Linked DNA regions of Homo sapiens: region 1 is linked to region 2. The links come from fine-mapping of genetic effects on gene expression. A gene starts in region 2. The other region holds a variant in brackets. All regions are shown on one strand. Distances are between the middles of the regions. Region 1 overlaps BRIP1 (BRCA1 interacting DNA helicase 1). Region 2 holds the start of MED13 (mediator complex subunit 13).

Evidence for each region. PIP is the estimated chance that this variant, and not a neighbour inherited with it, causes the effect.
Region 1: its variant is fine-mapped to the expression of MED13 in whole blood (INTERVAL, PIP 0.95).

What each region holds. Positions count from the first base shown.
Region 1 is chr17:61,828,402-61,831,194 of GRCh38, forward strand. The region is part of intron 6 of BRIP1 (BRCA1 interacting DNA helicase 1); the gene reads right to left. Among named protein-coding and RNA genes, the nearest start is that of BRIP1, 34 kb to the right of the region's middle. The variant G/A (reference allele first, on the strand shown) is at 1,595.
Region 2 is chr17:62,063,593-62,066,385 of GRCh38, forward strand. It overlaps MED13 (mediator complex subunit 13), which reads right to left and starts at 1,686. Exons shown (of 30, transcript NM_005121.3): 1 at 1,548-1,686. The coding sequence starts at 1,613. RefSeq lists enhancers at 1,077-1,176, 2,087-2,346 and silencers at 1,327-1,606, 2,397-2,476.

The DNA.
Region 1 (2,793 bases), 240 kb before region 2:
CAATAGGGAAATACAGAGATATTGTTTCATGGGTATGGTGTTTCAGTTTGGAAAGATGAAAAGGTTCTGGCACTAGATAATAGTATATAAATATGCATAATACCACTGAATTTACACTTAAAAACAGATAAATGGTAAATTTTATGTTATATATATTTTACCATTAAAAACATGAAGGTAAGAAAAAAAGCTGAAAAAATATTTGCAATGCAAATGTTAAATAAAGCTCTTTAAGCTAATAGAAAAGTTACACAATACAGAAACTTGGACCTACAAAATGAAGGGCACCAGAAGTGAAAAACTGGAGGGTTAAGAAAGAAATTATTTTCCTCATTTGTAAATTTGTACATAGCTGATGATTTAAACTAAAAATAACAAAACACTGTGAGGGCTATGACAAATGTAGAAGTAAAATATTTGACAAAAATGGCACAAAACATGGGAGAGTAGACACGGAAGTATATTGGCAGAAGGTTCTTACACATTATTTGTGAGTTGAAATATTATTTGAAGGTACACTGTGATAAGTTTAAGATGCAAAGTATGAAGCAACTCACAAAAATAAAACTAAGAGGTATACTTAAGAAGACAGTGGTGAAGGTAAAGTAGAATCCTAAAACATGTTTAATTAATTCAAAGAAGACAGAAAAGGGGAATAAAGAAAAGTTGGAACAAACAGAAAACAAATAGTAACCACAGTGATAATTACACTGAATGTAAATAGTATAAGTGTTCCAATTAAAAAGAAGAGGTTGTCAGATTGGATAAATAAAGAAGACAATTATTTATAAGAAACTTATCTTAAATCTAAAGACACAAATAGGTTAAAAATAAAAGGATGAAAAATATATACTATGGAAACATTAATCCTAAGAAAGCTGGAGTGGCTATATCAATGTTAGCCAAAATAGATCTCAGAACAAAGACATTTCATAATGACAGATGGGTTAATACATCAAGAAGACATAATAATCTTAAATGTGTATACAGCTAATAACAGACCATGAAAACCCATGAAGCAAAAACTGGTAGAATTGAAAGAAAAGGCAAATCCACAATTATAGGACCCTTACAGTATTCTCTAATTAATTTATAAGTAGACCAAAAAAAACCAGCAAGGATACAGAAGATCTTAGCAAGATAATCAACAAACTTGACCTAACTGATTTTTATAAATGAATACCCATACTTTCCAAAAACTCACAGAGCATTTGCCAAGACAGATCGTCAAATTTAAAAGAACTGAAATCATATAGAATCTATTCTCTAACCACACAAAAATAAATTAGAACTCAGTAAGAGAAAAATATCTAGGAAAAAACACCTAGTTAGTGTTTATTTAGACTTCTAAATAAATCTTGGGTCAGAGAAGAAATCACAAGGGAAATCAGAAAAAAATGTAACAACATCAAAATTTGTGGGACACAGATAAAGAAGTGCTTAGAGGGAAATGTATAGCTTTCATTGGTGTTTTATTTAGGAAAAAAAAAGGTCCAAAATCAGTTATCAACTATTTAAGTTTCAATCTTTTTTTTTTTCTTTTTTTTTGAGACGGAGTTTCGCTCTTGTTGCCCAGGCTTGAGTGCAATGGCAC[G/A]ATCTCAGCTCACTGCAGGCTCCGCCTCCTGGGTTCAAGCAATTCTCCTGCCTCAGCCTCCCGAGTAGCTGGGATTACAGGCGCCCACCACCATGCCTGGCTAATTGTTTGTATTTATAATAGAGACAGGGTTTTGCCACGTTGGCCAGCCTGGTCTCAAACTCCTGGCCTCAGGTGATACGCTCGCCTCAGCCTCCCAAAGTGCTGGGATTACAGGGGTAAGCCACCATGCCTGGCCAAGTTTCAATCTTATGAAGCTAGCAGAAGAGAAAATTACATCCAAAGAAAGTAAAACAATGGTAATTAAAAAAAAAAAAAGCAGAAACCAACAAAATAGAAAATGGAAAAACAGAAAGTCAACAAAAACTTTTTAAAAGATCAATAAAATGGATAAACCTCTACTACCTATTACAGATTGAGCAAAATGAATTCTAGATTAAGCAAAAAAAAGGAGATAGACACAAATTCACAAATTATGAATATCAGAAATGAAAGAGGGCATATCACTACAAATCCTACAGACACTTAAAGAAATAAGAGAATATTTTGAACATTATGCCAATAAATTCAAAAACTTGAATGGACAAATTTATTGAAAGATACTAATTACTAAAACTGACTCAGAAACAGAAAATGTGAATACTCCTATACTCATTTTTAAAATTAAATTTAAAAGTAAAAGTCTTCCCAAAAATAACACATAAGGGCAAGATGGCTTCCCTGGTGAATTCTATCAAAAATTTAAGGAAGAAGTAATATCAATACTTCCCAACTCATTTTATAAAGCCAACATTACCTTGATATCAAAGCCAGATAAAGACATTACAGAAAACTATAGACCAATATTCTTATGAACATAGATGGAAAGAATCCTTAACAAAATTTAGCAAGTCAAATCTAACAATTATATAAAATGGGTCCTATACCATGATCAAGTGGGTTTTATTCCACTAATTTACAGTCAGGCCAACATTCAAAAACTAATCAATGTAATTTACCATATCAACAGGATATAGGAGAAAAAACATATAATCCTACCAAGGAATGCAGTAAAACTTTAAATATAAAATCCAACATCCACTCATTATAAAAATGTTCAGCCAACTAGCGATAGAAGGAAACTTCTTTAGCCTGACAAAGGGCATAGACAGAACACCTAGCACAAATGTCATACAGAACAGTGAGGGACCAGAATGTTT
Region 2 (2,793 bases):
TGCAAACAGAGTACATTTTTCTCTGTCCTAACTGGTCACATTTGTTCACTGGTGTCAAACTTTTAACTGAAAATCAATTATTAAAGACCCTATCATGGGTTTTTATTCCACATTTACAGAAGTAACGTCTCTAATGAAAAGACATCTGAACAAGTTCTGAAAAAATCTATGTTAATTCTTCACACACACCCCTGTCGGAAAAGTCAAATAGCTACTCACAAAGAACTGTCAGATTTGTGCTAGTCTATCTTCAAAGAACTGATCCTAAAAGTACCAAAAATAGACTGAGTTGGATAAGATAGAAATATAAAACCTGGTGTATGTCTTATTACATGTGAAGAGATGCTGATTAATGGACATTGAAAAGAAAAACATACTGTAGACGAGGATAGAGTATTAAAGATCTCAATTTAGCATGGGCGTTAAGAAATTCGACAAGAGGAATTCAGTAATTTAATCTAACTTAAAGGAGCAAAGCATAAGGTGCCAAAAATGAAACTGCTGATACATGACTGGCAGTTTACACTTGCCAACTAGTTGTGCTCCTCCCACTTAACTCACTTACCTATCATATACTCTTAATATTTCTCATAGCACAAAGGAGAAAATGAAAAAGTAAAGTCACCCAAACTTAAAGTCATTGATGAAGCTCAGCTACTGTCCCATACAGGACAAGTTATTTGCAACAGTTGGTACTTCTGAAAGCCTTAACTGTTGGATGTTACCAGACCTGGGCTAACCTACACAATGATCATCCCTACATCCCGCTTCTCTCGACTTTCCATTTCAATCAAACAAGGGAGCAGCCTGCTCAAAACATTCTGAAAAAGCAACCAAAACACAATAAATATAGAAACAGTGCAAAACCACAGCACCTCGTCCACTAGCCCCCTTCACTCTCACAAAAACATCATGTTCTAATAAAAGCAAGATGGCTAGAAATTGTCAAAAATGGCAAACTGTTTTCAAAGTTTAAAAAGAAAACATATGAAATGGCACCTACTGGCTTTTACAGAGAGATCTTAAGTCACCCAAGAAAGAAACTAACCTGGCGTTAGTTTGACTCATACAAAAAAAATGTAAAACCAAGACAGGTTTCTAGGGCTTAAGTTCTGGGGTCCTGTTTACATGGGGAAACCAAATTAAAAGGGTAAGACATAAAGGCGGTGGGGAGCAGGGGCAATAATGTAAAGTGTGAAGCAGGGATACAGGGCCAATAAGGAGAAAAGCAACAGTTAAGCAAGACAAGAGGGAAAGGTTACTGTCCTGCCAGATAAGGAGCTCAAGTTGAGGACGAGACTACGGTGAGAAGGAGAGTCCGAAACAAGACGAGAAAAAATGCCAACACTCCCCTAAACAGAGCCCGGGACCGTAGGAGAGCGAACGCCGCCTCCCGGGGCTGGCCGCGGAGCTTCGCAGGGCGCCGGCTCCGGCTGGGCCTCGCCCGGGAACTCGGGCATCTGGACCAGACCCGGCCCCCTCCCCCACGGCCCAAGGGCGCACCTCGCGGCCCCCCTCCCTCGGCGCCCGCCGGCCCCGGCACTCACCAGGCAGAAGAGGTTACAGTGACAATCTTCCAGGCTGGCCCCGTTCGGCACGAAGGAGGCACTCATCGTCCCTCACAGCAGCCGCCGCCGGCGCCACAACCCACCATCCGCCATTACCGCCGCCTCCGACCAGAGAGAGAAACACAGACACCGGGGAGGGCCGGGGGGGGGGTAGTGGTTGGGGGGGCGGTGGAAGAGGAGGCCGCCGGGCGCCCGCCCTCCCCACCCACCCCCCCGCCGCCGCCGCCGCCGCCGCCGCCGCGAGCAGCCCCCGCCGCCCGGCCGGCACCCAGCCGCCCGGGGCCGAGGGCCGGAGGCGGGAGGGCCGCGCCGCGCTCGCCTGGCGGGCCGGACTGCGGATCCCGCAGACGCTCGTCCCTCTCTGGGGGACGGAGGGGATGTGTGCCCCTACCACAAGAAAAATAATAAATTACACAATAAATAATCAAAATCAAGTCCGAGACGGCAGAGCCCAAGCCCAGGACGGTTCTCCCGGGCGGAGAGGCGCCCGCACAGGAGCGGGAAGGGCGAGAACCGGGAGAGAAGCCCAGGCCCCCGGCGCGGCAGCGGCGATGTCCTTAAGCCCAGAGTCTCCTCAGCGGCGGAGGTGGTGGCGGCGTCTGCGGGCTCAGACCATTCTCTGGCTCTGTCTTCGTGTCGTTCCTGGGCCAAGCCGGCCTAAAGTTTGCCCTCCTGTGGCCTCACCGGCTGGACGCCGTAGTCTCCCCCATTTTGTGGGCCCAGCGGGCGGTGTTTTTCCCCCTTTAATCCGAATTCACGGGTTTTCCCTTCGCTTTAATGGCGGCCACAGGGACCAGCTCGCCCTCTCTGCTCACCCATTGGCCGCCTTGAGGTCACGTGGGCCCGGGCTCGGTTGGGAGGGGGAGAGAGAAGTGAGCGAGGGAGGGCCGGGAAGCTTTCGGCGGAGGCGGTGAGCTCGGGGGACGGGGCAGCCAGCTGGTGGCCACTAACATAGCGCCATCTGCTGGGTGCCCCGGCCAGTATAAAACGACCCGGGGCCCTGGCCCTCTCTTTGCGGGGAAATTTACAGTCCAGGAAGGTTCATTTCACAAATCAGTGAGAATTACGTGGAAATCAGTTTGAGTTCTTTGGAAGAGAAAGTATTGGCAAAAATTCCAAGACATTCTCATTTATTTCGCGAGGCCGCTGGGGTGCAGGTGCAAACCTCTGGATTTGGGAGTCAGATGATCTGGATGGGGATAAGACTCCTCAACCTAAAAGTTGT